Linked DNA regions of Homo sapiens: region 1 is linked to region 2. Evidence: fine-mapped expression QTL. A gene starts in region 2. The other region holds a variant in brackets. All regions are shown on one strand. Distances are from middle to middle.

Region 1 (16,711 bases), 340 kb after region 2:
TGCAGTGGTGTGATCTTGGCTCACTGCAACTTCCATCTCCTGGGTTCCAGCGATTCTCCTGCCTCAGCCTCCCAAGTAGCTGAGACTATAGGCATGCACCACCACACCCAGCTAATTTTTGTATTCTTAGTAGAGATGAGGTTTCACCATGTTGGCCAGGATGGTCTCGACCTCTTGACCTTGTGATCCGCCCGCCTCAGCCTCCCAAAATGCTGGGATGACAGGCGTGAGCCACCGCGCCTGGCCGTAATAGTGGTTATTTCTGGATTCCAGGATTATGGATGATTTTTCATTTCATTCTTATACCTTCTATCTCACCAAGTTTTCTACATCAAAAAATTACTTAAATTTTTATTTTGTTACTATTTTGAAACACTTTTTTTGTTTAGTTAGTTTAAAGACAAAAAAGAGGTAGGCCTGCAGATTTGATAGACAGGCCAGCAAATACAGTTGGGAAGGAGTGGGATAGTCTTAAGCTTGTGTTCCTAGGAGCCCCCGAAGTTCAGTGTGAGGTGCTTTAGGCCTTCAAACTACCCTCACTCAATTCCAATGGGACAGGCTCTGAGTTCATCTTCTGCCACCATGTAACATTTTGTTTAGAGAAAGGGCTTTATGGCTAAAAAAAAAGTTTGGAAAGTGCTGCAGTAGGGAATGCCATCGGGGAAATGAGCTTAGACCAAATTTTGGGATCATGTCCCAGATGTCAGTGAATATAATCGGACTGGCAGCATTTAGTGCTCACCACTCCACACAGGCTGGTTGCAAAAAGTCTTTACTCAAGTCTCTATTTACTTAAGATTTTTCACTGGCTGAGCTAGCTGAACCCAGCTCAGAGGGACTCAATCCCTCTGGCTGAAAGAGACTTTGGTTCTACACATTACGAAGCTTCAGCCTAGGACAATAATGCTGTTAAAATGTATCCTACTGATGGCTGGGCGCAGTGGCTCATGCCTGTAATCTCAGCACTTTGGGAGGCTGAGGTGGGCGGATTACCTGAGGTCAGGAGTTTAAGACCAGCCTGGCCAACATGGTGAAACCCCATCTCTACTGAAAATATAAAAATTAGCCGGGTGTGGTAACACATGCCTGTAATCTCAGCTACTACTTGGGAGGCTGCAGTGGGAGAATTGCTTGAAGTAGGGAGGCGGAGGTTGCAGTGAGCCGAGACTGCGGCTGAGATTGCGCCACTACACTCCAGGCTGGGTGACAGAGCGAGACTCCATTTAAAAAAAAAAAAAAAAAAAAAAAGAAAGAAAAAAGAAAAAAAGTATCCTACTGAGAATCCATTGGTATCATTGTGTTTATACTTTGTCTCAGTAAAACTATCTCTGTCAAACTCCATCCGTTTCTCCCTAGGTGAGCTCCATTGTGGCTACAAATAGGTCCCAAGAATGTTATGGGGACATATGGACAGAGGGACAAACAAGCAGAGAGGAAAGATGATGTGGAGACATAGGGAGAATGAATGCCAACTCTGTGCCAAGGAACACTTAAGGCTGCCAGAGGGTAGAAGAGAGGGCTGGAACAGGTTCTCCCTCACAGCTCAGCTCTCAGAAGGAACTCAATCTCCCAACACCTTGATCTTGAATTTGTAGCCTCCAGAACTGTTAGACAATACATTTCTGTTGTTTAAGCTGCCTGGTCCTTGGCATTTTTGTTATGGCACTCCAGGCAAACTAATACAGGACCCAAGCATCTCTGCTGGGGAGAGCAGATCATAGGCTACGATCACTACGAGCACTGTCTAGACCAGCACAGTCCAGTAGAAATATAATGCGAGCCACATGTGTAATTTTAAATTTCTTACTAGCTAGATTTAAAAGTAAAACAAAAAACAAAAACTGGAAAAGGGTGGAATTAATTTTAGCAATATATTTTATTTAACTCATTATTTGCAACATGTAATCATTTCAAGACATAATATAAAATTATTTTTAGTCTTTGAAATCCAGTGTGTTTTTTTTTTTCTACATCTCAATTGGGACTAACCCAGTTTTAAATGCTCTATGAACACAAGGGGCTTGTGGCTCCTGGATTGGCCAGCATGAGTTTGCAGCCTAGGTCCCTGCAGTGGACCTGTGCATGGAGTGCCCTCAGACTTACTTCACCGGCAGCCAGTCAACACCAAATCGAAATGAGACTGGACCTGACTTATAAATATGCAGATCAGTATTAGAAAGACACATTTTCTTGAGTAGTAATTCCCAGGCAAACAGCTCTTCAACCTACACTGACTTGAGGCAGATCCCTGATATCCCCGCTTCCACCTGGCATTTAGCTCTCCCAAGCCATTGGATACCTCGGATATATATGCCCACCTTGGTGTGTGCCTCAAATGCTGTTCAGACTATGGCTGCTGATGGCTTCTGTGAAGGAGAATCCTGCAACATGCTCCATGTTTGTTGAGGGCTCCAGTATCCTTCATTTCTCAGTATGAACACTTGATTCTGTCCTCAATGCTCTCCCTCACCACCTACCTGCCATGGTGCTTTCCTGGCTCCCTTCAGTAAAACATACCTGCTGGGCACTGCTCAACCTTCCAGCACTGCCTTCCTTCCCACCTACAATTTCAGCTTCCTTTCTGGTTTTACTTTTTGGATTTCAGGGAGCTCAACTCACAGCGTTTCTCTTCCTCACTGGAGCCTGCAAGCAGTTGAGACCTAAAACAAAGAAGAAAGGCACAGATAGACTCTCCTTACCTCCTCCCTTACCTGTAGGCTTCCTGTCTGGCCAAGGGCAGTGTAGAGAAAGTGGGAAATGGAAGAAGGAGCTGGCCTACCAATGCCTAGTTTCTCCTTTCAAACGTACCCACCACCTCACTTACTTATTATTGTTTGTGGTGAAACATTTGAAATTTACTCTTAGTTATTTTGAAGCATACAATGCACTATTATGGGCTATAGCCACCCTGCTGTGCAATTGATTTAATCATTCCACATTGCATACATATGTCAAAACACCACTTTGAACCCCATAAATGTATACAATTAGGATTTGTCAATTTAAGAATCATATTAGTGAAAAAAATTAAAAAGTTACAAACTTGTCTATCATATAAGGCAACTTCTCCTCTCTGAGGAGGAGGAAGTGGGTGTTCTCCTTGCCCCAACATGACTCAATCACTGAAGCTCTTGAAATGACACCAGAAAATTGCTGTTGCTATGTAGTACTCTATCCTGGACCTATGTGCAAGAATCAGACAACAGTCTTAGAAACCTATGTGTCATCTCAGGGGTGCCAAGGTACATGACAAATGGAAACTTGTTTGTCAGCAGTTGCTCTGTCCTGCTGATATGGTGGTAGAGGGGCATATGTCTATCAATGTGGTGGGCTAATGTGGGGATGGAGTGGCAGAGACCCTGCACCCCTCAGTTCTAGTAGGAGGCACTGGCTGTTCCTCCTCTATGTGGCTCCACTCTAGGCATTCTTTCCACTTTCAACAGTTATTATTTGAGTGTGTAGGTGCCAGGCACTGTGCTGGGTACTCAGGGTTGGCAATGAATGAGAAGATGTTAACTTATTCAATCAACACTATTAATTGGAAGCCTACTATGTGCCAGGCACTGTTCAGGGCTGGTGCATGGTGGTCAATATGACAGATGGAGTTCCTGCCCTGCAGTGGGTAATGTGGGAGGAAAATAAACAAGTAAGTAAACAGATGTACCAGATGATGTCAAAGTGAGTAATGGATACTAAGGAAATGAGGCAGAATAATGTGATAGAATGAGGAGGAAGTCGCTATTTTAGAGTGGGAAGTCAAGAGAGCCCTTTCTAGAAAGGTGGCATTTGAATTGAACTCTGAATGATCAGAGGGAATGATCAGAGGGAGGCAGAGAGTGGATGACTAATTCGAGTGTTCAACGTAAATGCAGCAGCAGGTGAAGAGGCCCGGAGATGGGAACTAACTTGATATGTTTAGGGAAGGGAAATATAGTAGTAGACAATGAATTGAACTGTGAATAACCAGAGGGAGGCAGAGAGTGGATGACTAATGCGAGTGTTAAACGTAAATACAGCAGCAGGTGAAGAGGCCCCGAGATGGGAACTAGCCTGGTATGTTTAGGGAAGAGAAAGATAGTAGTAAGAAATGAGGCTGCAGGGAAGGCAGAGGCCTGGCCATGCTTGGCATTGGAGGCCATGTTTAGGGGCCATGGAAGACCTGAGTATACACTGAATAAATGGCAGCTAATGTAGAATTTCTGCATCTCAGTCCACAAATTTTGGGCTACCAGGAAGGTCTCATTAAAATAATTCTTTAAATCAATTTATATTCAACTCACAATACCAGGATGGCAGAAAATTCTATTTCAGTCACTAATGGGGCTTCATCCCAAGATCATGCCAAAGTCTAGAGGTGTTCTCAAAGTCCAAAAGCCAGTGGTGGCTCTTGTAACTTTGGTCTATAGTGGTTCCAGCTGGGATGTCTTTTGTTCAAACTCTCAAGGTCCCCTGATTCCAGCCTATGCTTGATAATCTTTGCCTAGTCTGGGGACCTACTTAGTCTGCCCACATCTCCAGCTGCCATGGGAACTTGGAAACACTCTGAAAACTGCATGAAGGGCTACAAAGTTTGCCTATGAACACTGCTGCGAATTTCACTACTATTTCTCATTGAATTAGTTTTCTAAGGCTGCTGTAACAAAGCACTGCGAACTAAATGGCTTAAACAGCAGAAATTAATTTCCTCACAGTTATGGAGGCTGCAAGTCCAAGACCAAGGTGTGGGCAGGGTTGGGGTTCTTTCTGAGAGCTGTGAGAGAGAATCTGTTTCAGGCCCCTCCCCTAGCTTCTGGGGGTTTGTTGACAATCTTTGGCATTCCTTGGTTTGTAGAATCATCATCTAATCTTTAATCCTCTGCCTTCATCTTCACATGGTGCTCTCCCTGTGTGTGTCTCTGTGTCCAAATTTCCTTCTTCTTCTTCTTTTTTGTTTTGAGACAGTCTTACACTATTGTCCAGTCTGGAGTGCAGATGCACAATCTTGGCTCACTGCAACTCTGCCTTCCGGGCTCAAGAGATCTTCCACCTGTTTCCTGAGTAGCTGGGATTACAGGTGTGTGCCACCACACCTGGCTAATTTTTGTATGTTTTGTAGAGATAGGATTTTGCCATGGTGCCCAGGCTGGTCTCAGACTCCTGAGCTCAAGTGATCCTCCTGCCTTGACCTCCCAAAGTGCTGGGATTACAAGCATGAGCCACTGCACCCAGCCCCAATTTCCATTGTTTATAAGGATATATCAATCATGTTGGATTAGAGGCCACTCTAATGACATCATCTTAACTAATTACAACAACCCTATTTCCAAAGCAGCACATCACATTCTGATGTACTGGGGGTCAGGATTTCATATGAATGGGGGTGGACACAATCCAACCCATTAACAATCATCTTATTTCTTCATTTCACTGCCCAGCTTGCTCCTGACCCCAGCCTTCAGGCTGACTCTGCTCTAGGCTTTCACGTGGGCCTGGTACAACTTGTTGAGAAGGTCAAAGTCATTATTTGGGGGAAAGTAGCTCCAGGGTAACCCCAAGGACAGGTCTGTGGGGCAAAAGTCTAGTGGAGGGCAGGTCTCTGTGAAGAGGTGCTCAATTATGGAGAAGTAGTGGCTCCTAGATCTGAAGCTGGAATTTGGGAGGATGGTGTGTCAGTCAGATTGGGCTAGGTAATGCTGCAGTAACAAGCAACCCTCAAATCTCAGTGCTAACTCAATAAGGCTTACTTCTCACTTTATTCTATGTATCCATTGCAAGTCATCTATCACCTGACTCAGGGCCCAGGCTGAGGGAGGTGCCATCCTCACCATACCTAATACATTTGTAGTGAAAAGAGAAAGACACACACACATGAGTGACACATCAGGAGCCTGGATTACTGCCCTGAGCAACTGGCAGCTATGAGAGGGCCACACTCTACAAGTGTCAGGGACAGCTATGCCAGATTGGCACAGAGAACTCTGAGGGTGAATGGGCCTTGTGCTAGGCAGTGGTGTCTGGGATAGCCTGCCTCTATCACCAGCTGCCTTCATGAGAGTGGTGCATGTCCGGCCCCAGCAAAGGAGAGAGAAAGGAGAAAGAGGAGGAGGAGAAGGAAGAGGAAAAGAAGAGAAAGGAGAAAGAGGAGGAGGAGAAGGAAGAGGAAAAGAAGAGAAAGAAGAAGAGGAGAAGGAGGAAGAAGAGGAAGGGGAGGAGTAAGACGATGACAATGGCAAATTTGAGCAAGCTGTCTAAACCTCTGTATGTGAGGAGAGAAAGTCATGCAGTACCACTCCTGGGGCTCAAGAGGAGGGAGAATCATCCCCTCTTGCCCTTTTCTGCCTTCTGCCATGTGAGAATGCAGCAAGAAGGCCCTCATCACATGCTGGTGCCTTTATCTTAGTCTTCCCAGCCTCCAGAACTATGAGAAATAAATTTCTGTTCTTCATAAATTACCCAGTCTTGTGTGTTCTGTTATAGCAGCACAAAATTGACTAAGCCAAGGACTCCACTCCCTGCCATCCCTGACCGCAGCTCTGGGACAGGATACTGCTCACTAACTCTTGGACAGTCATTCCAATACTCCCTCTAAAATATATGTCTTGAATTGGTCCACTTCTCTCCTTCCCCATGGCTGCTGCCCTAGTTCAAGTCACCATCATCTGTCACCCTTACTATGGCAGTAGCTTATTTCTGGTGTCCTGGCTCCAATCCTGCCCTTTATAATCCATTCTCTATATAGCAGCCAGAGTGAGCCTTTTGAAAATGTAACTTCAACTCATGTCACTCCTCTGCTTAAAATCATGCAATAGTATCTCTTTGTACTTAGAATAAAAGCAAACCTCCTTCCCGTGACCCACAAGGTCCTATAGGATCTGGCTGCTGCCCACCCCCAGCCTAATTTCCTGCCACTTTCCTTCACTTGCACGTACTCCAGTCACACTTTCCTGCCTCAGGGCCTTTGCACATATTCTTCCCTCTGCCTGGAATATCCTTCCCCTACTCTCCTCATGCCTGGCTTCTCATCCATTTGCATTTGGCTAAAATGTCCCTTCCTTTGAGAGATGGCTCCTTATTACCCTCTCTCAGTAGATGCCTCCTTCTCTCCATCCTCTGTCAGGGTACCCCATTCATTTCCCTCATGACACTTGGCACAGTTTTTGAATAAGTATTTCTTTGTTAATTTTTGTTCTCCCTTTAGACTATAAATTTCATGAGGGCAGAAACTATGCCTGCTTTATCCATCATTGTATCTCACAGCCTAGCACAGCTCTTGGCACATAGTAAGCCTTTAGCATATATTTGCTGAATGAGCAAATGAATGATTAAATAAATGAATGTATTTGTTTGAGTTTAGTTTCTAAGGATTTGTTTATTTCCTGGCACTGAAAAACAAGGTAGGAAGGTGAGAAGCATGTTGGAAAACTGAAACTGAATTCTAGTTCAAGATGGCCATTCCTGGAAGGTCAGATACATAAAACAGAGAATTATTTGGAGATCAGGGTGGAACTCAAGAAATATACCAAATATACTGGAACTCAAGAAATATACCAAACACACTGGAATATACCAAAGACAGTCCTAATCTTAGAAGGGCCGCAGGCCTTTTGGAGTATTTTTTGCTACTTCTGGTAATACTCATTGTCCATTGATGGCAAGTTCTGGGGCCATGAAGATGGTGCCAACACAGGCGTGACATGTTTGAGGCTGACTAGAGATGGCACTATATAAAAGGAAATGTATCTGGCTGTCCATAAGAATGTGATGACTTCGTGGAGAGACACAAAGTACTGAAAGTCTCTCTTGGCCAGATAGAAGTGTAGTGTATGCAGTCAGTGCTAGGATTATTAGCTCTAGCTTTCAGAAAAAGTAACTGAGGCTCAATTAAGTCCATTGTCCAAAGTCATTCTACTACTATGTAGAAGGCAGGCAGGCTGATCTTCCCCACTGGTCATTGTCCTGTGTTAGACTCTCAGTAGGTGGTGGGGGAAGGATTGGAGCCTAGAGCTTGTATCTGAGCAGCACTATCATTGGCAATGCAGATATAAATGTACCTGCTTTGTGATAAACTGTGGGAGGGTCTTAATCTCTGGCTGTGGTGAGTGGAGGTATTTACCTTGATAAAGGCCCCCAGATAATTCTGAGACACTCTCCGCCTTTCTAAGAGCACTTCCTCCAACCACCTGACCCCTTGAGAACCACTGCATTAGAAGGCACATGGGAAACAAGTTCTTAAGAAACTGACTTTCATTTAATGAGTTCATTACAAAGGCTGCCGAACATATTCCCAACTAGAGGTCAGTTACACCTACATTTCTCAAAGTCGCACAATCACTGACACTCGGGGTCATCAAGGTGACAGTGAGGCTTGCAAAATATGCAAATACCTTCTGAGTGATCAAAGGAAGAAGTTCTCTTTGGTGGAGTATTGGTGTTCTCTGTGCTTGGTATATTTCAGTTTTCTGGATTGAGCTCATCAAGGTCTGGGAATTCACAGTAATTCTGTTCGGCAGACACTTGCATTAACCAGAATATACAA[T/A]CCTATTTCCCTGGCCACTGCAAAGGTTTTATTGCAAATACAGTCCCTGAATTTCCCAAAGCTTTTTCACATATGAGCAACTTGGTTAGGACTCTATGCTTCAGTTTTACCAAGAGCTTGTTTGCTTTGAAAGGACTGCCACAAAAAATAAAAAATAAATAAAAGCAAAAATTTCTGTTGACTGTAAAACTGCTCAGTGAATGATTTTTACGTACACGTATGGACCAAGGAAGCAGGCTCTGGGCCCCTCTGCCTCCAACCACATTCCCAAAGTTCTCACGCTTGTAAAAGAAAAAAAACATGTTTGTTTCCCTTTGATTTTTATGGGACTGTAAAATAAATTAAATGAAAAAGCCTATAGCCTTAAACTACCCAAAAGTGGAAAATGGAAAATTCACAAGCCAAACTCCTGTGCATTGATTCCTGGAGGCTCTTCAGAATAACTCCAGTGGTCACATTTCGCTTTCACATTCAGCTTAAGTGGCACCTCCTCTAGGAAGTCTTTGAGCATCCCTGTTTCCTTATTAATTATACAGTTCATTCATCCATCTATCCATTCATTCAATAAGTACTTATTGTGGATCTACTATATAATATCAGGCACTGATGAAGGTGTTTTGTAAATAGGCAGATAATAAGGACAAAAACACACAAAATTCCCATCCCTCATGGAGCTGACGTTCTAGTTGGGGGATACTGACCATATAAACAAGATAAAGAAGTAGGGTCTATAGTACATTAGAAAGCGGTAAATGCTATGGATAAAAGTCACGCATGGAGAAGGCCAGCAGTGCCAGATGGTGAAAGTGGTGCTGTAATTTTGGACTTGAAGGAGGTGAGGGAGTGTGCTGTGTAGCTGTCTGGGAGATGTGTATTTTAGGCAGGGGAATGGCATGTGCAAGGGCCCTGAGGAGAACAGTGTGTATGAGGAACAGTAAAAAGATCTGTGGGCCTGCAATGGTGTGAGTGAAAGTAGAGCTGTAGGGAATGAGATCACATGATGATCTCCTCCACTGCAGCATAAACATGTTCCTCTTGCAGTGCGATCACACCTTATCATCATTATTGTTACAGTTCTTAGTTGGGTTTTCTGGGAAACAGATACTGAGGCGGAGTTGTGTGTGCTTTCGGGATCAATGCCTGGACAAGGGAAGGACAGGAAGCCCAGTGGGCAGAAGGAGCAGTTGAGCTGCAGTGAAGTCACAACAAGGATTTGGTCAACCCCAAGGGGAACTTTGGGGCTGGAATGGCTCTTCAGAGTCATTCAGAGCTGTGGAGAGGGGCTGGGCCATTATACCCCTCCTCTTCCCACATCAACCAGTCACTGGATGGAGCTGTCCCTTGAAGGGGATGTGACCTGGAGCTAGGCTACTCTTTTCAGCTGTGAACAATTCCTGCAAAAGCTGACACCAGAACAAGCTGACACTTGAGAATCAGCATTACCAGCAGTTAGAGAAATAGTGCTATTTCTCAGAATGGTGAGAAAGTAAATGTTTGTTGTTTAAACCACTTAGCCTATGGTATTTTTTTATGGCAGCCCTAGCAAACTCATACACCAGGCCTCCCAACTTGCAGGCTCATGCTCTCCCCTCAGCATGAATCACTATGGCTTGATATCCCTCAGAGAGATGCAAATCCCCTCATTGGAGGTTAGCTTGGTGTAGGGCCAAGAGCACTAACTTTGCAGTCAGAAAACCTAAGGACTTTCTCCTCCTCTACTTAACTGTGTGGCCTTGAATCAGTCACTTAATCTCACTGAGCTTCTATGTCCCCATCTGTTAATTGGAAGGAATGAAGAATGCTGTCTTCCTAAGGGCCCATTTGGTGTCTGGGAACTGCATTGGCACTTTCAAGGACCTGATAAGAATGTTGGAGAATCCAAGAAGACAGCGCCCTTTGTCATCATAATTCCAAACACTTGACCAGAGGATTAAGTTGTGTCAAGGGGGCCTGGCATGTAATTGGTGGTCCACATGCCTAATACATTTTTGGGGAAAAAGAGAAAAGCATGCACGAGTGACACATCAGGGGCCTGGATTACTTCCCTCAGCAACTGACAGCTATTTGAAGGCCACACCCTATAGGTGCCAGGGACAGCTATGCCAGGTTGGCACACAGAAACCTGAGGGTGAACGGGCTTTGTGTTAGCTGGTGGTGTCTGGGATAGCCTGCCTCTATCACTGGCTGCCTTCATGAGAGTGGTGCATGTCTCCTCTCTCTTCCTCTCTCGACAAGGGAGAGAAGAGGAGGAGGAAGAGGAGGAGGAGGAGGAAGAGGAGAAGATGGCAATGATAACAGCAACAAGCATGAGTAAGCCGCCTAAGCCTCTGAAGATGAGAAGCCGTAGTCATGTAGTGCCACTTCTGGGGCTCAAGAGGAGTGGGGATCATTAACCCTCTGAACCAGACAGAATGGGCAGGGATGCTGTATAATAATCATGATACTACTACTAAGATTATCCATTATTAGGGAGAGGAGACAGTACATCAAAAGCCATGGATTTTTCCCCTCAGGTTTGCAGGGCCAAAATCTTGCTCTCCCCAGTTCACCCTGAAGTTTGAGGTTCTGAATGGGAGTGAGATGGGGCAGTGACTCACTCTCCCTAAACTCTCAACTGACTGGCAGTTAGACTGTAAGCCAGCAGATCCATCTCTCTGTGGAGGAGATTGCTATACATCTCTCTATGGGAATACTAGATCTTGTTGGTTAGGGTTTTCCCTTCCCATTCAGGACATCTGAAAAATCAAATTATTCAGCACAAGTTTCTCAGGAACCAAGGGAGTTTGGCTGGTCTTGAAGGGTATATTGCTTCTGGCTAGAGGCCAATCTTAATAAATTCTCCCAGTTCCATAGCAAAGCTCTGAGAATTCACCTTGCTAGACATCAGAATCGGGGAGTCTCTTCTTCATAGCTACTGCTGAATTAGCATGAACACAATTTAACTAACTAGTGGACATATGCTTTGTTATTGGCTCAACACCCACTCCTTTGGGGAATCACCTCTCTTCAATCTATCATCTACTGGACGTCTGACCTTGGGCAAATTACTTAACCTCATCATGCTTTGGTTTCTCCATCCTTAAAGTGAGGCTAGTACAGTAGCCTCTCATTATCCATGAAGGATCTGTTCTAAGACCTCCAGTGGATATACCAGAAACTGCAGATCGTACTGAACCCTGTATATACCATGTTTTTTTTCCTATATATACATACTGATGGTAAAGTTTAATTTATAAATTAGGCACAGCAAGAGATTAAAAATAATAACTAATAATAAAATAGAACAATTATAACAATAAAAGTTATGTGAATGTTCTCTCTCCCTCTCTCTTTCAAAATATCTCCATACTTTCGGACTGTGGTTGACCATGGATAACTGAAACTGCTGAAAGCAAAACCAGAGATAAGTGGTGACCACTGCACTAGTGCCTACTTTATAGGGTTACCATGAGAAATAAGGGAGTTAATACATTAAGTGCTTGGAACTTACTAAGCACTCAATAGATATTAGTAGTAGTAGTATCATAATCATTGTATAGTATCCCTGCCCATTCCATGTGGTTCACAGGGTTTAATGATCTCCACTCCCTTCAGCCATAGGGGTAATATTGCATGACTCAGTCCTGGCCAAAAAGAGTACTTCATCTCAGGCAAAAGCAACATAAAAGTAAAACTCACATAGTCCCATATTTCTTGGAGGCTTTGTTCGTTTCTTTTTATTCTTTTTTCTCTAAACTTCTCTTCTCGCTTCATTTCATTAATTTGATCTTCAATCACTGATACCCTTTCTTCCACTTGATCGAATCAGCTACTGAAGCTTGTGCATGCGTCACATAGTTTTTGTGCCATGGTTTTCAGCTCCATCAGGTCATTTAAGGTCTTCTCTATGCTATTATTCTAGTTAGCCATTCATCCAATCTTTTTTCAAGGTTTTTAGCTTCTTTGCAATGGGTTCGAACATCCTCCTTTAGCTTGGAGAAGTTTGTTATTACTGATCTTCTGAAGCCTACTTCTGTCAACTCGTCAAAGTCATTCTCCATCCAGCTTTGTTCCGTTGCTGGTGAGGAGCTGCGATCCTTTGGAGGAGAAGAGGCACTCTGATTTTTAGAATTTTCAGCTTTTCTGCTCTGGTTTCTCCCCATCTTTGTGGTTTTATCTACCTTTGGTCTTTGATTATGGTGACCTACAGATGGGGTTTTGGTGTGGATGTCCTTTTTGTTGATGTTGATGCTATTCCTTTCTGTTTGTTAGTTTTCTTTCTAACAGTCATGACCCTCAGCTGCAGTCTGCTGGAGTTTGCTCCAGACCCTGTTTGCCTGGGTATCACCAGTGGAGGCTGCAGAACAGCAAATATTGCAGAACAGCAAATATTGCTGCCTGATCCTTCCTCTGGAAGCTTCGTCTCAGGGGGGCACCTGGCTGTATGAGATGTCAGTCAGCCCCTACTGGGAGGTGTCTCCCAGTTGGGCTACTCGAGGGTCAGGGACCCACTTGAGGAGGCAGTCCGTCTGTTCTCAGATCTCAAACTTTGTGCAGGGAGAACCACTACTCACTTCAAATCTGTCAGACAGGGAGGTTTAAGTCTGTAGAAGTTTCTGCTGCCTTTTGTTCAGTTATGCCCTGCTCCCAGAGGTGGAGTCTACAGAGGCAGGCAGGCCTCCTTGAGCTGTGGTGGGTTCCACCCAGTTCGAGCTTCCCAGCCACTTTGTTTACCTACTCAAGCCTCAGCAATGGCAGATGCCCCTCCCCCAGCCTCACTGCTGTCTCACAGTTCGATCTCAGACTGCTGTGCTAGCAGTGAGTGAGGCTCCGTGGGTGTGGGACCCTCTGAGCCAGGTGTGGGATATAATCTCCTGATGTGCTGTTTGCTAAGACCGTTGGAAAAGTGCAGTATTAGGGTGGGAGTGTCCCGATTTTCCGGGTACCATCTGTCCCAGCTTCCCTTGGCTAGGAAAGGGAATTTCCCGACCCCTTGAGCTTACTGGGTGAGGCAATGCCCCACCCTACTTTGGCTCACACTCCGTGGGCTGCACCCACTTTCCAACAAGTCCCAGTGAGATGAACCTGGTACCTCAGTTGGAAATGCAGAAATCACCCGTCTTCTGCGTCACTCAGGCTGGGAGCTGTGGACTGGAGCTGCTCTTATTCGGCCATCTTGGGATCGCCCCCCCAAGAAAATCTCTTTTTTTCTAATAAATGCTTTTAATGCTATAAATTTACCTCTAAGAACTGCTTTCACTGCATCCCACAGATTTTGATACGTTTTCATTTAGTTCAAAATATTTAAAAATTTCTCTGAGACTTTGACCCATGTGTTATTTATAAGTATGTTGTTTAATCTAAAAAATATTTGGCAGTTTTGTAGCTAGCTTTCTTTTTTTTGATTTCCAGTTTAATTCCACTGTGGTATATGAACATACTTATATGATTTCTACTCTTTTAAAATTCTAAGGTGAGTTTTATAGCCCAGAATGTGGTCTATCTTGGTAAATTTACCATGTGAACTTGAGAAGAATGTGCATTTTGTGGTTGTTGGATAGAGTATTTTATAACTATCGGTTGTATCAAGTTGATTGAGAGTGCTGTTCAGGTCATCTATACTCCTGCTGATTTTCTACCTGTTGGATTTATCAATTACTGACAGACAGGTATTGATGCCTCCAACTATTGTTATGGTTTTGTCTACTTATCTTTTCAGCTCGATCAGTTTTGGCCCTATAAAATAACTGCTCTTATTTGCAGATGGCATGATTGTTTATGTTGACAATCTCAGAGAATCAATTTAAAAAGCCACAACTCGGCCGGGCGCGGTGGCTCACGCCTGTAATCCCAGCACTTTGGGAGGCCGAGGCAGGTGGATCACGAGGTAAGGAGATGGAGACCATCCTGGCTAACACAGTGAAACTTCGTCTCTACTAAAAATACAAAAAATTAGCCGGGCGAGGAGGCAGGCGCCTTTAGTCCCAGCTATTCCGGAGGCTGAGGCAGGAGAATGGCGTGAACCCCGGGGGGCGGAGCCTGCAGTGAGCCGAGATGGCGCCACTGCACTCCAGCCTGGGCAACAGCGAGACTCCGTCTCAAAAAAAAAAAAAAAAAAAAAAAAAAAGCCACAACTCTTGGATCACGAGGTCAGCAGATCGAGACCATCCTGGCTAACGCGGTGAAACCCCGTCTCTACTAAAAATACAAGAAAAATTAGCCGGGCGTGGTGGCGGGCGCCTGTAGTCCCAGCTACTCAGGAGGCTGAGGCAGGAGAATGGCGTGAACCCGGGAGGGGGAGCTTGCAGTGAGCCGAGACTGCGCCGCTGCACTCCAGCCTGGGCGACAGAGCGAGACTCCGTCTCAAAAAAAAAAAAAAAAAGCCACAACTCTTACAATTGGGAGGTGAATTCAACACTGTCTTAGGATACAAGATCAAAATACAAAAATAAATTGATTTTAATATACTAGCAATGAACATGTGGCAACTGAAAATAAAAAATACAATACCATTTTAAATTGCTCAAAAAATGAAATATTTGGATGCCCTCAAAGGAGCTTGCAGTGTGCTTATATAGCGTTCTGTGCTGTGGCCCAGCATGAAAACATGAGCCTGACTCATCAGTTCCTCTAAGGAACTTGAGCTGGAAAACGTCTGAAGGATGAGGTAGCAAGCAGTGAGAGCAGAAGTTGAAAGTCCCTGAGGTCAAGAGAGGTCAGAGGAGCCATGAGATGTAATGTACCTATGGCAAGTTCTGAGGAGGCTGAAGCTATCAGGAAGCATGAACCATGAGAGTCCAAAAGCCATGAAGTAGATGAGAAGTGGAGAGTAGAGGGTGAAGAAGTCAGTTTGTCACAAAATCTACGGGCAACGGATGCAGAGCAGCTGGCCCACATTGGTGGTCCCAGCGAAGATCCATAGAGTCTTTGGTTCTCATTTATGTGCATTGCAGTAGTCATAACAATTTAGATAAATAATGGAAATCCAATTCAAACTAACTTAAGCACAAAAAAAATTTATCAGCTCATTAAACTGAGAAGTCCATTGGTTGAGTTGACTTTAGGGGCTCAATATTGCCAGGGCTTTGCTTCTCCTTTCTTTTGTTGGGTCTATTTTCTTGTCACATTTCTACTTTATTCTGTAAATAATTTATTTCTTTTGTAGACATCTAGTAACAACTTAAAGTTGATTAACAATTATTAAAGTTAATTGTTAATTAACTTTAAGTCGATGTTATTGATTGTGGTGCTATCAGAGAGAGATCTCCAAGGATGCACTTCTCTAGAAAGACTCTCATTGGCCCAGCTTCAGTCATGTGTTCACCCCTAGACCAATTACTCTGGCTGGGGGAATGGATTATCCCTATTAGCCAGTCTGGGATATGACTGACCACTCCCCTCAGGGCCACATAGATTGAGAGGACTAATTCCTTAATGGAGAAACAAGGTGTTGTCAGAAGAAGGAGGAAGGGATATAAGCTGGCCAAACCCCACATGTCTAATTCATCTAGTCTCTCCTCCCCTTACTTGGGGAAGCTGAAAAGAATCTCTTCCTGGAAACCAGAAGACCTTCCCTAGAGTAAGTGCTCCTTGTCATTTCTGTCAGGTTTTGGCTCTCTAAGTGTTTTGGAAGTTCTGTGTGACATGTTAAGGGGAAATGACAAAGAGATTTGAGTCTGTACCAACTTGAACTTAAAAGAGGCAGGTACATTCCTGGAGTTCAGGAAATTCGTGAAGTTTGTCAATTGATTCTGAACATAGAAGGGGGGGTGGTATTAGTTTTTAACTCCTTACACCCCAACAGTCGCCCCCTACCACCAACTCAACCCCATTCTGCTGCCTGTTTCTGCCATTGCCCACTCTCAGGTTTGAAACATGCTGCCATCTCCCATCCAGAACCTAAGCTCCTCTTGAAAAGGTCACTGATTTTTCAATTCTCTATCTTACTTGACAGTGCTCTGGAACCTCCTCCTGGGCAACTCCTCTGGGGGTGGGGCTTCCACTCAGCCTACTAGGTTTGGGGCTGAGGGCATAGAGCTCCTGAAACCTCTCACCCAGGGATCTGGTTCAGATTCTATGGGCATAAAGGGATATGGTAGGCTTCCTGGCAGAGCTGAGCACTGTCAGCATTGTGCTTGGGGTGGCAGAACAATGTGCTGGGGCATGGAATTGGCCCCAGCAAGTGCAACTTGCTAGCAACAAGTGAGAAGGAGAGGG
Region 2 (16,711 bases):
TCAATGCATTCTCAGCTCCAAAGGCATCCTCCTTTAACTGCTCTGTGATAATGGAGATGGGCTTTGTAAATATTTCTTACCAGCTGGCATAATGTAAATCCTTGTCAGTAGAGGGCGCTAGAGAGAGAGAGACCAGAGGAGAAAAAAGTTTTATCTTCCAGATTCTGGGGTGCCTCATCTTTTTGCCTCCTCCAGAGCACAGCTTGCTTTCTCTGTTGCTGGGCTCCTATGCACATGCTTTCTTTTGAGCTAGGCCCATGCATGTATCATCCCAAAGAAAACCACGTCAAAGCATTTAATAATCAAACGCCCAAAGATCAAACATTAAGAAAGAATCCTAAAAGCAGTAAGAGAATAGAAACAAATAACATACAGTGGAGCCCAAATAAGTCCAGCAGCAGACTCTTCAGTGCAAACCTTACAGGCCAGGAGAGTGTGGCATAGCGTATTTAAAGTGCTAAAGGAATACAACTTTAATGCTAGAATAGAATATCCAGCGAAAATATCCTTTAAGCATGAAGGAGAAATAAAGATCTTCCCAGACAAACAAAAGCTGAGCGATTTCATGAACACCAGACCTGTCCTATAAGAAATGCTAAAGGGAGTTCTTCAATCTGAGAGAAAAGGATATTAATGAGCAATAAGGGATTATCTAAAGGTACAAAACTCACTGGTAATAGCACAAAGAAAAACACAGAATATTATAAGACTGTGTGGTGTGTAAAACACTCAAGTAGAAAGACTAAACAATGAATAAATCAAAAATAATAACTGTAACTTTTCAAGACATAGGCAATACAATAAGGCAAAGGGAAACAATAGAAAGTTTAAAAACAGGCAGATAAAGTTAAAATGTAGAGTTTTTATTAGTTCTCTTTTTGCTTGTTTGTTTATTTGTTTATGCAATCAGTGCTAAGTTCTCATCAGCTTAAAATAATGGATTATCACATAGTATTTGCAAGCCTCATGGTAACCTCAAATGTAAAAATATACAACAAATACGCAAAATGTAAAAAAAGCAAGAAATTAAATCATACCACCAGAGAAAATCACCTTCACTTAAAGGAAAGAAGGAAGGAAGACAGGAAAGAAGGAAGAAAACACCACAAAACAAACAGCAAACAAATTACAAAATGACAAGAGTAGTCCTCACTTATCGATAATAACATTGAATGCAAATGGACTAAACTCTGTAATCAAAAGACATAGAGTGACTGAATGGATGAAAAAACAAGACCCTACAAGAAACTATTGCTTACAAGAAACACACTTCACCTATAAAGATACACAAAGATTGAAAATAAAGAATGGAAAATATAGTCCATGCTCCTGCTTCTCCAATGGACTCAAAATCTCATCCAAGAAAAGCATTTATCTTTCTCATCCCTAAACACATCTGCACACCTCTCCTAAGACCTGATGGTTACTGTCTATAAATTTCAGCCTCTAATTACATCAAGTCAATTACTATGCTATTTCAGACTTAGAGAAATGGATAATCCATATATAATATCTGATGTTTTAACTTATATTTGAATGTGAATATCTCTAGCGTTTGAAAAATCTCTAACATTCAAACAAGAGTGTTAAAACTCTGCGCTGAAGGCCTTACAAAGCAGTCCAGCTTTGGAGTCCAGGTCTCCTGCTGCCCAGTCCACCCTAGGGCTGCAAAGCATCACTGCCCAAGCCCAGACTGAGTTGACGGCTGTCTGCATAGGTGGCAAAGAGACTGTGTGTTTTTCTCCCCACTTTTGGTGAGCCCCATGTGGTGGTGCTCAGGATGAAAAGGATCCCCCTAACTCCAGCTGACATCTACTTGGCAAGCAGGGCAATGGAAGGCTTCAACATTGGTTCTCAAAGATGGAGCCTCATGTACACAGTCCTTACTTGGCAGTCATATGTTATGGTCCTGGCACACAACAATGGCAACAAGAACAATGGCAACAACAACAACAACAGTGGGTCTCGGTTTTGTTTTCATTTTATTGGTCCATGCAACTCAAAACCTGTGACTAGGTGGTCTGAACTCACTGTCTCTCTTTTTGCCCTCCCAGACATTTCTGTCCCTTGGGAGTGCTCTCAGCAGAGTCCACACCACCTCCTTGCAGTCAAATCCAGGGAACACTTCTTTGTCTTACCAGATGTCCCAGCAACACTTGACACTCTGGATCACTCTTTCCATCTTAGAACTCTTGACTTTCTTGGCTCCCATGCCCCCTCTGCCCTGACTCTTTGCTTGTCTCTGCCAACCCCCCGAGCTCTTCCCGGGCCGCTCTTCTTTCACCTGCCCTGTCAGTGCCAATGATCTAGTATGTCTCCTTGGCTCACTTGTCTTCTCATTTTACATGTTTTCCCCAGGCAAATTTACACATTCTCATCAGGGCCAACTTCATGGGTGTTTGGCCTGTGCACTCACACAGGGCCCCATGCTTAGAAAGGCCCCATTCCTGATTCAATGCTTTCCTATCACCATCTGGAAATTTGTAATACTTTTGAACAAGGTACCCTGCATTTTTCATTTTGCCCTGGGCCCTACACATTACACAGCTAGCCAGTTCTGCCTCTCGAGGTTTTACACCTTTAGGCTGAAATCTGTAGCCCGGCCTTTCTCCTGGGCACCAGACCCATCTACCCCGTCACTCCTGGACATGTTACAGGCTCTTCCACTTCAAATAGCTTCTCTTTCTTTTTTTATTCTTTATTTTTATTTTTTAATCTCAGGGACTGGCATCACTTTCCACCCAGGCACCCAAGGTCAAGATTGATTCTGAAGACAATGTTCTTCCTTTGACTTCATTGACAACCTCATCTCCTGGACCTCCTCCTATTTTGGACTCTTCTCCCTCCTTTGCAGACCACTATATCTCAGCTGCTTGCTTAAATGTGGCTGCCTTAAGGGAATTTATCTGGGAGAAATTTATGTGTTTACTGAGTGGGGCAAAAAGTGTGTCTCTGAAATATGCTTGCCAGGTTGAGGCAAGTGGAGTCTCTGGAGCTTTGAGAGTATGAGGTCTCTGGACCGCAGTCTCTGTGTGAAGGTGAGCTTGACACTGCATTGTAGAGCACCTGTCATAAGACTGAGGATACAGGAATCTCAACATCAAAGAATGGTGGAGATGATGGGGGTGGTGAAGGCAAAAGCCTCCCGAGGCATCCTTTAGCCTTGCCAATAATTGAACTTGTGGCTGAGAACCTTCCAGATAACTTCTAAAGGCAAAGTTAAGTCATCTGTGGTGCTTTTTCTGTAGTTTATTGTTTTAGTCCATTTTCTGTTGCTTACAACAGAAGACCTGAAACTAGATAATTTATAAAGAAAATAAATTTTTTCTTACAATTCTGGAGGCTGAGAAGTCATAGGTCAGGGGGCCGTATCTGGTGAGAGCCTTCTTCCTGGTGGGAACGCTGTTGCATCCCAAGGCAGTGCAGGGCCTCATATGGTGAGGAAGCTAGGCGTACTTGCTCAGGCCTCTCTTCCTCTTCTTGTAAAGCCACCAATTCCACTCCCATGATAATCCACTAACCCATTCATAAGGGCAGAAGCCCTGCTCTTTTGAGCTGACACTACAAACCCTCCAAATGATGGGAACATTTCTCTGCAGTGCAGTCACATGTAATTCCATTGAGGATTAGCTTTGCTCAGTCCTAGCAAAATTATGTTTTTGAGAAATTTATTTTACAAGGGACGATCAGGTCCACTTTCATTTGCTTAATTTGTTTTCAAGAAATGAAAGTGATGATCCCAACCGTAGTTTCCAAATCGTGAAGCTGAAGGTTAAATTACAAAGAGTTCCTCTGTCCTCAAATTTTACGAAAATTAGCCAACTTTTTATTACCTCTCTTTCCTGAGTTCCTTTCCAACTGTCTACTGGACATCTCCACTTGGATACCCATAGGTACCCCCCAAGACTGCTATGCATTGTTGCACAGGTTGTGAAGTGCACAAGGGGGCCACATCTAAGGGGGACTGCTATGGTCTGAATGTCCCCAGTATTCACTTGTTGAAATTTGATCCCCATGGTGGTGGTGTTAAGAGTTGGGGCCTGCTGGGAAGTGATTAAGTCATGAGGGCTTGTCCTCATGAATGAGATTCAGTGCCCTTATAAAAGGGCTTAACAGAAGGTGTTCACCCTTTTACCTTCTGCCATGTGAGGACACAGCGTTTCTCCTCTCTGAAGAATGTAGCAACAAAGGCATCATTTTGGAAGCAGAGAGACCAGGCCCAGACCAGCGAGAGGTTTGATGTTTCACATCCCAGCCTCCAGAACTTGTGAGAAATAAATATCTATTGTTATCTATTGTTTCTAAATTACCCAGTCTGTGGTATTTTGTTGTAGCAGCACAAACAGACTAAGACAGGGATCCTTCAGAATGAGGTCCACATAGATTTCTAGGTCTATTATGGCAGTCTCTTGGCATATGGCAGCCAAAGGTTGAGCTTTAACAAAATTGGTTATACTATGACAATTTTATGACTAACAGAAGTCCAGTGTTGTTAGGAAGGGTTTTCTTTTTTCTAATATACACAAAGGCAACTTATGGGCTTGGACTTAGGGTGGGTCAAGCTCAACATGTCTAGAATGAATTCATCCTGGTCACTGACCTCTCCCACCTGCTTGTCATCTTGGATTCCTTTTATCAGTGGCTAATATCTCCTTTACCCAGTTTTCCAAGTCTGAAACCTCAGTGCCAGGCTTGGCCCACGTTGGCATCTCCTTCCCTCCTCACTTCATGTCCAACATTCCATCAGTCACTGAGTCCTGTCCAATGTTAGGGTTCATGCATCAGGTCTTCCTTGATTATGACAACAACTTCTTAACTGACCTTCTCACGGCCACTCTTGCCCCTCCAGTCCATCCTCCATCATGCAATCCTAGTGATCTTTCTGGAGTGGAAATATGATCAGTTCACCCCTTTCCAAGATCTTGCTGTGGCTCCTTGTCACCTCTAACAGGGTTTCTCAAAGTGTGGTCCTCAAACCATGTATATCAGAATCACTTGAGGTGCTTTATCAAATGTGGATTCTTAGCACCCACCCTAGCTAACTACTAAATTTTCAGATTCTCTGTGGTGAAGCTCATGAATCTGCACATTAATTGATGTCCCAAGTCATTTTCATGCGTGTAATTTTGAAAACTACTACTTTCTACATAAACATGGCATAAACATGCATAAACATGTCACAAACATGCAGCATACTCATATACATTTCCCACTTCCCCAGCAGGAACTGCAGAGTGCAGCTGGGCATTCAAAGGAGGCCTTTCCTGTTTCCTGGTGAGCATCACCACGGGCCTGAGAAGTCACTCTTCACCTTGCCTCCCACCACACAACTCCAGCTCCAGGTGGCATACAAAAACCATGTGCCTGTCCTCTTAGAGTGATTTCTAGGAATGCAGTATAGTCAGCCCAGCAACTATGACTAGACCCCCATGTGGGCAGAAGGGGGTGGTAGGGCCTGTGTGTGTTTGGAGACAATTCACCATGACTATCTCCGGTTTCAGCATGGTCAGGGTTCTCTGAGGAAATACATTTACAGCCACGTTAGTAAAGTTGGTATGAGGAGACATTCCAATCCAGGGTAGTAAATGTAAATCTCCACAAAGGACATTTGTTTACATCTGATCATTCATTCCAAGGTAACGAGTAATCTCTCTCCCTGCAGGGGAGAATGGGTAGGTCACTAGTAGCCAGAGTTTCCTGCGTTGGGGTTTTCTCTCCTGTGGTGTATCCCATTACATGTGCAGATACTATCTAGCCTCCTATTGGTCAAAGGCAGTTACAGGCCAGCCCCCATTCAAAAGGAGGGGAAATAGGTACCACCTGTTTTTGTTTTGTTTTGTTTCGTTTTGTTTGAGACGGAGTCTCGCACTGTCGCCCAGGCTGGAGTGCAGTGGCAGGATCTCAGCTCACTGCAACCTCTGCCTCCTGGGTTCAAGCGATTCTCCTACCTCAGCCTCCCAAGTAGCTGGGATTATAGGCATGTGCCACCACGCCCGGCTAATTTTTGTATTTTTAGTAGAGATGGGCTTTCGCCACGTTGGCCAGGCTGGTCTTGAACTCCTGACCTCAGGTGATCTGCCCACCTCGGCCTCCCAAAGTGCTAGGATTACAGGCGTGAGCCACCACGCCCAGCCGATACCACCTCTTAATGTAAGAGTGGCAAGGTTGCACTGCAGAACAGCATGCCACCCTGTAGAGACTGGGGTTCAGGATGCAGATCCAAGATATTGCTGTGGCTGCTGATTTTGCTGTGAATAATAAACTGTCTTTGTTTCGGATCCAGAGGCTTTATATTTTCTCTCAGAGTGTTAGAGTGTGGTGATCAACTAAATTTTCAGCTTGCTAGTAGGGTAAAATCTTAGATTATAACAGCTTCTGACCTACTACTGTGGAGTACCCTCCTTGGAGTGTGGCTGTGATTTGTGCATGGATTCCTATAGCTGAATGGGGAAGGGAGCTGAGCAGGTAGGGGATTACTTCTCTGGATCATTCATCAAGAGCAATGCTTGGGTGCTCTATTGCTGCACAAAAAATCACCCCAAAACCTAGTGGCTTAAAACCATAATTCATTAGTTTTCAAAAATCTGTGAGTCAATTGTATGATTCATCAGCTTCATGTGGTGTTGGCTAGGCCACCAGAATGACTGAAAGGCTTGAAATGGCCTCACTCACATAGCTGGCAGTTAGTGCTGGCTTCTGGCCATGCTGCCTGGGGAACTCAGCTAGGGCTATTGGCTGAGAGCTTTGGTTCTCTTCCATATGGGCCTCTCCCTGTGGCTGCTTGGGCTTCCTCAGAGTATGGCAGCTGACTTCCAAGAAGGAGTATGCACAGAAAGCAAACTGGAAGTTGCAAATCCCTTAAGGGTTAGCCTTGGAAATTATACAGCATCACCTCTGCTACATTCTATTGGTCAAAGGGGTTACAGGGCCAGTCCACATTCAAGGAGAAGGTAAACAGAATCCACCTCTTGATGTATGAGTGGTAAGATCACCTTGCAAAAGAGTGTGTGGGATGGGGGATATTATTGCAGCAGTCTTTGGAAGCACAATCTATCAAATGGACGTAGATGGGGGACTATACAATAGTATTTCTCCAAGTGCAGCAAGCCCCGCATCAGAATCATGGGAGCATTTGCTGAAAATGCAGACTGGGGCTGATTCTTGCACACTAACATTTGAGATCTGGTGAGCTGCAGAACAAAGCCCAAACTTCTTGGCCTACCACCAGTCCAGATCCTCACTTATCTTGTCTGACTTTATGCTCCAGTAACACTCGATTTCTTGGCATTCTCTTGCACATAATAAGCTATTTAACCTACAGATAGAGTTTGGATGTTTGTGCCGTCCAAATCTCATGTTGAAATGTGAGCCCTAATGTTGGAGTTGGGGCTGAGTAAGGGGTGTCTGGGTTGCAAACTGGATTGTGAACATCCTGAAGGTGGACCCCTCAGGAAAGGCTTTGTGCCCTCCCCGTGGTAATGAGTGAATCCTCGTTCTATGAGTTCATGCAAGAGCTGGTCGTTTGAAAGAGTCTGGTGCCTCCCTCACCTTTCACTTGCTCCTTCTCTCACCATTTGACATGCCTGTTTCCTCTTCGCCTTCCACCATGATTGTAAGCTTGCTGAGGCCCTTACCAGAAGCAGATGCCAGCACAATGCTTCTTGTACGGTCTGCAGAACTGTGAGCCAAAATAAACTTCTTTTCTTTATAAATTACCAGGTCTCTGGTATTCCTTTACAGCAAAGCAAAACAGATTAATATACCTACTAATCCACACCTTTGCCCATAACTGTGCCTTCTGCCTGGAATAACTTGACTCCTTTGCCTCATCAAGGATTTACTCATCTTTAAAGATTCAGTTTTATGTCACCTTTTTGGGGAAGTTTTCCTGACCTCCTCTTCTCCTATGGATTGGGGTAGGTGTTCCACATCCTGTGCAATTGTCCCCATTATAGCACTTGCCAACTTGTAATGTCATTGTTAATTTGTCTGTCCCCTTCACTGGATTGTGAACATCTTAGGCAGGGATATGTCAGATTCATCTCTGTCCTCTAAATCCTAAGTGTACTTAACTGAATTGGAAGTATGACAGTGTCACAGTGAATTCCTCTTTGGCCTAATGTTTCTTAAAGAATATGGTACTTAAAATATGCTTAAAGTTGCACTGTTTTCTTTCTGACAATTCTCAGCACAGCTAAGATGCTTGCAGCTACTTGTAACAAAATACCCAACTAAAAGTGGGTGTCTTAGTGTGCTTAGGCTGCCAAAACAAAATACCATAGACTGGGTGGCTTAAACAACAGAAATTTTCTCACAACTCTGGAGGCTGGAAAGTCCAAGATTAAGTGTCCAGCAGGGACCTAGTAAGGGCTCTGTTCCTGGCTTGCAGATGGCCACCTTCTTGCTGTGTACTCACACGGCCTTTTCTCAGTGTGTGCATGTGAGTGCATGAGATCAAGCTCTCTGGTGACCCTTCTTAAAAAGCACCAGTTCCATCAGACTAGAGCTTGGCCCTCATGACCTAATTGCCTCTCAAAGACCCCATCTCCAAATACCATCACACAGGGAATTAGGGCTTCAACATATGGACTTCAGGGGGATGAAAACATTCAGTCCATAACAGTGGGTTAACCATTTGATTTAATAATTTTAGAAAGCCAGCAACCTGCAGTCGGTGATTCTCCAGTGTGAGATAGGAGCTATTATTGTCTGGGGATCTTCCTTTCCTTCCTCCTAGCCCTCCTCACTCTGTCATCTTCTTACCCCAGGCTCACCTCCTCTTGTGCGTAAGATGGCTGTCGGGGCTTCAGGCATCATATCCTCAAAGTTCAGTTTGAAGTTATTAAGCTGGTGGGGCAGGATGGGTCTGGGATGGGCATGAGTAACTCCCTGTCTGCAGATCTGCCTTTTAACAGTGAGCAAATTGTTCCCTTTATATCTTCTTTTCCAGACCTGGGTCGCAGGCCTCCTGTCTACACCCAGAGCAATCACAGGCAAAGAGGCTTAATCACGAGCCACACACCCACTCCCAACTTAATCAGGGGTGAGGTGAGAGGGGATGAGCTGTTGGATATTCGAACCCAAACAAAATGAGCAAGGAAATAAATCTAGCCCAGAAAGCAAATGTCCTAAATGCCTCACCAAGATATTGGCTTGATGTTCATAGCAGTGATTTTTTAATCAACAGAAGTTAAATGTTACTCTTAACATAAACCATGGGCGGAAGCTCCGAGGGCGGCATCAGAACACTTGGTTGCCCTACAGATGGCAAGGGGGTGGGTTTGTGGCGGGGCGGCGGGGTGCGTATGGAGGGGGAGAGTGGAGGGAAGAATGGGGTGGGGAGGAATTGCTAAAATGCACGGAATTGCTCCTGCTTCAAGATGTCAAGACCGAGGGAGCTTGAGCTGTTCTATACCTTTTCCGGGAAGGACAACTGAGGTGGGAAATCATTTTTGATACTTGAATGTCTTCAAACTTCTTTTTACACCCCACGTCTCTGCAGTCAACCCGGTGTGACTATAGAGTGAAGCACGCTACGCATAATCCGTTTGGGGATTCCGAACCCCAGTGGCTCTGTACGCACCCAGGTCGCTGGAGCAGGAGGTCCCAGATCCCCGCTGTAAGGCTCCGTGGGCGAGCGCCCAGGTGGGGCTGGGCGAGGTGGGGGTTCCCGGCGCCGGCCCCGCGCGCCGCCCTCCCCGCCCCCGCTCCCGCCCCCCGACCCCCGCGCGCGCGGCCTTGTGGGTAACGCGGGGCCGCCAGGTGACAGCTAATGGCGGCGGCCGCCTGAGGCGGGCGGGCGGTATAGAGCGGGCGGCAGGAGGCAAGCAGCGAAACCTTCCCGGCCGCCGCTCCCGTCCCGACGGCGGCTTCCCCAAGGCGGCAGGACTCGGCGCGCCATGGACAGGCCGGCGGCGGCGGCGGCGGCGGGCTGCGAGGGCGGCGGGGGCCCGAACCCGGGGCCGGCGGGCGGCAGGAGGCCTCCTCGGGCCGCGGGGGGCGCCACCGCCGGCTCCCGGCAGCCCAGCGTGGAGACCCTGGACAGGTAAGCGGGGCCCGGGCTGCCCCGGCCTCCCGCGCCCCGACTCCCGAGGGCCCCGCGCGAGGCCAGCCCGCCCCCTCCCCGCGCGCTGCGCAGGGCCTGGCGGTGGCGGGGTGGGCGGCCCCTCTTCATCCCCTCTGGGCCCTCCTCCCCCCCACCCCCGGAAACCTCAGCGCCCCATCCGGGGACTGCTGCCCTCGGACCTGCTGCGGGCCGCGCACCTGGCTCACTTCCGCCCCGAGAGCCCCAGCTCCTGGAACCCCGGGAGGGGCTTCGCAGCTGTCAAACCACTTCCGGCGCCGCCACCTGCTGCCCTTGGCGATCGCTTGGCTGTCCCTGCCCAGGCCACCAATCCTCTTGGGAGGGAGATCCCACCCGGGCTCTCCTCTTCTAGCATCACCTTGCCTCGTGTGGTTTTAAGACCCCAATTCTGCTGTGGCTGCTTAGGGTCTTTGATGGGGGGTTGGGAGTGAGGACGGGGAGATGGGACCCCGCGGGCGTGGGAGCTGGTGCAGATCGAGGCAAAAATCTGAGATGGAAAACGTCCAAACTGCTCAGGAGGCAAGAAAACAGAACCATTTACTTTCAGTTCTTCACACTTTGAGGGAACCAGTTTATTGTTTTCATGAACACACAAGCAAGCCTACTGCTTCTGAGGCAGCTGCAGAACTAAGAGAAATCAGTTAGAAACATAAAGTGACCGTGTCGAACTGGGAGGGGCCACCGCCTCCTCCGACGACAAGAGATGGCCTATCGTGTAACCCGGAACATCCAGTTTTCCCACAACTTGGCCATTTCCCTGACACCAGAGTGCACTCAGGCAGCATGCACTGTTGGAATGTAGCTCAGTCAGTTTTACATGCCCATTCCTGCCTGTCTTGGTCATCCCATTGTGCCAAACTTTTGGGAGTTTCCAAAAGCACAGAAACAAGAAACATTCCCTTCACTTTTGTTTCTACCTCAGTGTAATTACAATATATTTTAATAAATTAATCACCCAAGTGGTTAGTGTCACTGAAAACCAGTCACAGCTAAGACAGCACTTGAAATGGTGAGGACTTCACTCATCTGCAAATATTCAACCACACACGAGGTCTGGGCGATTCAGAGAATAGCACAACACGGCTTTTGCTGCCTTACCATTTTGCTAGACTTACCATCTAGTGGAGAATACAAACCAACCAACAGTGGAAATCGAATGTGATAAATGAGATAGGTGGTAGAGGCGAACACAGAAGTACTCAGGATGGGCATGCATCAGAATCATTTAAGAAGCCAAAGGAGACCAGAATGTGTCACCCCCAAATATGCCTCATCTTCTGGTTTCCTTCAGAGATTTTGATGATCAGGGAAAGCCTGAGAAAGCTGACATTTGAGTAATGCCCCCAAAGAGGCGAGGGATCCAGCCATACAGATACCTGGGGGTGATAGTATTCTAGTCAGAGGCCTGTGCAAAGCCCCTGAGGTGAATGTGAGCCAAGTGTTCCTAGATCAGCGAGGAGACTAGGTGTCACTAGCAGGGAGGGAGCTAGGGAGAGACAAGTAAGGGATGACGTTAGAGAAGTCACAGAGCCAGATGGTGGAGAGCCTCAGAGGCCATGGGGAGCCACTGGGGACTTTGTGCAGAGGAGTGACATCATCTGTTGTAGATTTCAGTAGGCTCTCCATGGTGCTATGTGGACAATAGAGTGAAAGGGGAAGGAGCTGAAGCAGAGACTGTCAGTAGGAGGCTATTGTAGTAAGCCAAGTGAGATGGTGGTCCAGAGTGGAGCGGAGGAGGGGAGAAGTGGTCAGATACTACATGTAATTTGAAGACCTGCAGGGTAGAGCCAATGGGGTTTGCTGAAGATTGGTTGGTTGGTATGAGAGAAGAATCTGGGAGAATTCCAAAATTTTAGCTTGTGGGAAAATTGTGTTGCTGAGATGGAGAAGTCTTTCTAAGGTGGAGCAGGGTTAGAAAATAGCAGGCTCTTCGCTCTGGACATATCAATTTTGAGATGCCAATTATATGTCCCAGAATAGATGTCAAAGATATAGTTGATCTATCTGAGCCTGGAGTTCAGGGTTGTCTGGGCTGGAGATTCAAACTGGGGAGTCATGGGCTTATAGATGAGGCTTAAATTCATGAGGCAGGTGGAGTTCACAGAAGAATGATGGAGGTCTGGAAAAGGGAATTGGGCTAGGAATAGGGCTGGGTGGATTTTCAAGATGCTTACCAGGTAAGAGTGACCCGACATGGTGAGCATTCAGATGTGAGGGGGGAGTGCCGGGTGGACTCCAAGGCAAACCTCAGCTTTCTAGCGTGTGGGGGCCGGATAACTGGCTGTGCTGCGCCCTGAGTTAGGAAACACAGGAGCAGAGTAGGTTGCGGGGCTGAGCGGCTGATGCTGGTTTAGACAGGTTGAATTGGCAGGGTCTCTGGGCCAGACTAGTGGACAGGTCTTGTAGGAACATCAGCATTGAGATCAGGAGAGTCCAGGTTGGAGAAACAGAGCTGGGAGCCTCCAGCCTGTAAGTAGTTATTGACACCAGGAGTATAGAGGGCAATTGCACAGACTACAGAGAAGGGATGGGGGAGGAATCATGGCCTCCTTTCTCAGTTCTGTCAGCTCAACAAGCTCAGATTCACACTTTTCTTTGAAGAGTGACCTCTAGAATGGAACCTGGCTCTATGGGTGGGACTTGGCCATGTCCCTGGGACTATGGGGCCTTCACTTCTCTTCTGAATACTGTAATTAATAATGAGGAAGCTGTGGTCCTGTAAGAGGATGTGTCTTGCCAAAGATCATGGAGTTAGCTGGTGACAGAAGCAGGACTCATGTCCAGGCCTCCTGTCTGCTAACCCACTGTGCTTCACTGTGTGTAACTACATTGGCCAGGATGCTTCTGGTTGCAGGTGACAGAAACCACAGTTCAATCTAGCTTAAGGCAAATGAGATGCCCTGGCTCACAGAACTGCTCCAGACAGGAGGAGAGATGGCCACAGGCACAGTTGAGGTCAGGATTGCAAACAGTGTTGTCGGGACTCCCCATCTCTCTCTCCCTCTCTCTTTTATTTTCCCTCACTTTTTAATCGCTGTGAGTTCCTTAAGATGGTAGGGGTGGGGTGGGGTGGGGAGTGGCCTCCAGCAGCTCTGGATACAGATCCATGTATTTCAGGATCCAAGGGGAAAAGTCTGGGATTGGCTGGTCCTAGGTAACTCACCTACAAGTGGGAGCAGGTGGAGGAAGGGGTCAACCTTCTTCTCCGCTTTCCCCCACAGAAGCCTGTGTTGTGGGGAAGGGCAGTTCCCAAAGTAAAGAGGAAGGTCTTTATCAGAAGAAGGGGGAAGGCATGCCGGGCAGGCAGGTGGTAATAGCAGGTCACACTCATGCTCAGCAGTTGGGTTTCTGCAGTTTCTTCCTGTATTTGCAACTGGTGGGTGCTGACAGAAAAAGGCATTATGACAAGAAAAGTATGATATACGTGGGAATGAAAGTGACTTAACCTTTAAAAAGGAAACAAATCTCTCCCTTTTCTCTCCTTCTCCCCCTCAGGTCGAAATTGTGGTATATAGATTCCTGGCATGTGATAGGAATTTCTGCTCATTCAGTATTTTCAACCATACAGATAACCTCTGGTCTGTTTTGATCAGAGACTGCAATTTGGATCACTAGCACAGAACTTCAGTTTTCTTTCTTTTACTATTTGGGTCATTTTCCATATTGCCTGGGGATTCCAGGTGTTTCTGTCCTTCAGATATGTGAGTGTGGGTTTAATTAGTGATATGATTTTTTTTTTAAAGGCCTGAAACATTCTTTACAGTGAAAGCTACCTGCAAGGTAAACTTTTGTCGGTGTTTTTAGCCCTCTAGCTTGATTTCTTAGTGTTTTGCCAAATTGTGAGAGGAACCCGGCCTCTGGGGGCAATTGTTAAATCTCTTACTGCGCTAGTTGGCTTATGTGGTCTTTCAGGTCAGGTGAGTACAGCCTGACCACTTGCCAGTCGTGTGACCTTGGGCAAAACTGGACCTTAATTTTTTCATCTGTAAAATGGGTCACTGTGAGGCTGGGCAAGGCTACGTGTGTGAAAATGCTTTGATGCCTCAGAGCTCTGTGGGAGTGAAAGATGACATTTTCTTTGCATTGCTGTGTTTTCATGTAAAGCGGTTGGCTCGCATCTGTGCTGCTGGCTTCAGTGCAGTGAGTCAGTCGCTATTGGTTGTTCCATGTCCTGTTGAGGACAGCCACTTTCTCACAGGGCATGTCACCTCTGTGCCTCGATTTTCTCTCCTCAAAGACAAGTCGGCTAGTCCCTGTTCTGCCTTCTCATCACACCATGGTTGTGAGGCTCTGATATAATAAAAACCATTTGTGCTTGTAATCCCAGCACTTTGGGAGGCCAAGGCGGGTGGATCACCTGAGGTCAGGAGTTCAAGACCAGCCTGGCCAACATGGTGAAAACCCGTCTCTACTAAAAATACAAAAATTAGCCAGGCATGGTGGCATGCGCCTAAATAATCCTAGCTACTAGGGAGGCTGAGGCAGGAGAATTGCTTGAACCCAGAAGGGCAAAGTTTGCAGTGAGCCGAGATCGCGCCACTGCACTCCAGCCTGGGTGACAGAGCAAGACTCTGTCTCAAAAAAAAAAATAAATAAAAAATAAAAACCATTTGTAAGTTGTCAAAGCACTTATAGAAGTGTAAGGTATTGTTAGTACTACACAGAGAACATCATTTTTCTAGGCTGTAATTTATAAATCTCATGTTCAGCTTTACTTTTCTGAGTCACTTTGCTTCACTCAAAAGTACACTATTTTCTAGATTTAAAACTACCAACATGAAATTGATTGAATGTTTGAAAAGCCTATGCTGTAAGATAAATATTTCACATATTTCTCCCGGCTGGGTGTGGTGGCTCATGCCTGTAATCCTAGCACTTTGGGAGGCTAAGGCGGGTGGGTCACTCGAGCCCAGGAATTCGAGACTAGCCTGGGAAACATGGCAAAACCCTGTCTACACGCGCGCGCACACACACACACACACACACACACACACACACACACACACACACAAAAGCCGGGCCTGGTGGCATGTGCCTGTAGTCCCAGCTACATAGGAGGCTGAGGTGGGAGGATCACTTGAACCTGGGAGGTTGCAGTGAGCTGAGATTGCACCACTGCACTCCAGCCTGGGTGACAGAGTGAGACCCCATCTCACAAAAAAAAAAAGAAGTATTTCTTCCATATAATTTTAATAGAGTAAAATTCCATTAAATGGTAGAGAATAGTAAGCTTAACTAACACCTAGAATCTTCAACTTTGTTTGAGAAAATTGGGTGATTCATTTAAAATTAACCTGGAATCTAATCTTATTTCCTAGTTGTCAGTCGCTATTTCAGTTCTTACATAAAATGTGAAGGTAACCAAAGAGTCTAGTTAGTTCATCTAAAAAAAGAAGTGTTATCATATTCCTATTCAGTGCTAATTTTTTCACTGAGATCCTATGATATAACGTTTTGTAATCCATGCTATTTTTTTTAGTCCCACAGGATCACATGTTGAATGGTGTAAACAGCTTATAGCTGCTACAATTTCTAGTCAGATTTCAGGTTCAGTGACATCAGAAAATGTGTCCAGAGATTACAAGGTAAGCAACATTGAGTGTTTAATTCATTTTCAGTATGCTAAGTAGCCAAGAAGCTTTGCAGTTTTAATTCAAGTGAGCTGTTGGCCTTTTGATGCAACATGGCCATTTGCTCGAGAATAAGGATGAAAGGTTCTCTGTTGTTAGATCTGAAATGTAGAAGAGAAATTTTACCAGTATCCAGTACATGTAGTCATAGTTTTGTAATTGAAAGGAGAAGCTGTCTTTAGATGACAATGATTCTTTTAAAAATCAAGTTCCATTTTATAATAATAAATGCATATAGCTTCTTTGTTAGTATTGTGAGTTTCAGGAAATATCTTGATGTACAATACTTCCCTAACTTCACAATTTTTTAATTTATGTATTATCTGTGAGTATTCAGCATTAACATGTGATACTAGAATGTATAAAAACCCTTCCAGAATCTCAAAAGAGTATTGTATGGGCAGCCTCATTTTTCAGTCCTTACTGAAGTGAAAATCTCTTTTTGTTCATTTTAAAAGTTAGATTCCCTGCTTATTCTAAATTTAAGTGATAAGCTCCTTGTCAGCAGAGACTAGGGCAGTTTTACCACTGGCTTCCCAGGCACAATCCTGGAGCATAACAGTTGCTCAATAAATATTGAATCAATTAACAAATCAAAAAAATCGCTTGTTCCATCTTTGTTAAGGCTAAAGACTAACTTTGTTTTAATGTCAATAAACTATTAATAGGTATATTAAATGAAATCACATTTATATTTCAGTACTGATGTTTGCCTAAGTTGAGGTTTCTGTTTATTAGTGGTCATTTTTCCTGCTAGTAAGAGATGATTGATTTTTCACAAGTGTGTGTAAAATGCATTTGGTATCCCAGACTACCATTAGTTAATAGTCTCTCAATATCATGGTCCTTGCCAGACATCAAATCTTACAAATATCAAGAATTACAGTAAAGATCCTAATTAATTCTTAATAGGTACTCCTTGTTTAGGAGCTTTATCTTCAGTTCCTCTTTAGAGCTCATAGGGTAATAACAAGTGCAGAAACAGGCTCAGGAGGCC

The links. PIP is the estimated chance that this variant, and not a neighbour inherited with it, causes the effect. A credible set is the group of variants that fine-mapping cannot tell apart.
Region 1: its variant is the best candidate, but not a certain one, in a credible set for the expression of MTMR1 in ovary (GTEx, PIP 0.81).

What each region holds. Positions count from the first base shown.
Region 1 is chrX:151,027,897-151,044,607 of GRCh38, forward strand. No RefSeq gene overlaps it. Among named protein-coding and RNA genes, the nearest start is that of HMGB3, 53 kb to the left of the region's middle. The variant T/A (reference allele first, on the strand shown) is at 8,516.
Region 2 is chrX:150,683,632-150,700,342 of GRCh38, forward strand. MTMR1 (myotubularin related protein 1) reads left to right here and starts at 9,765. Exons shown (of 16, transcript NM_001306144.3): 1 at 9,765-10,045; 2 at 15,564-15,669. The coding sequence starts at 9,900. RefSeq lists silencers at 9,696-9,765, 10,076-10,215 and enhancers at 11,109-11,208, 11,229-11,308.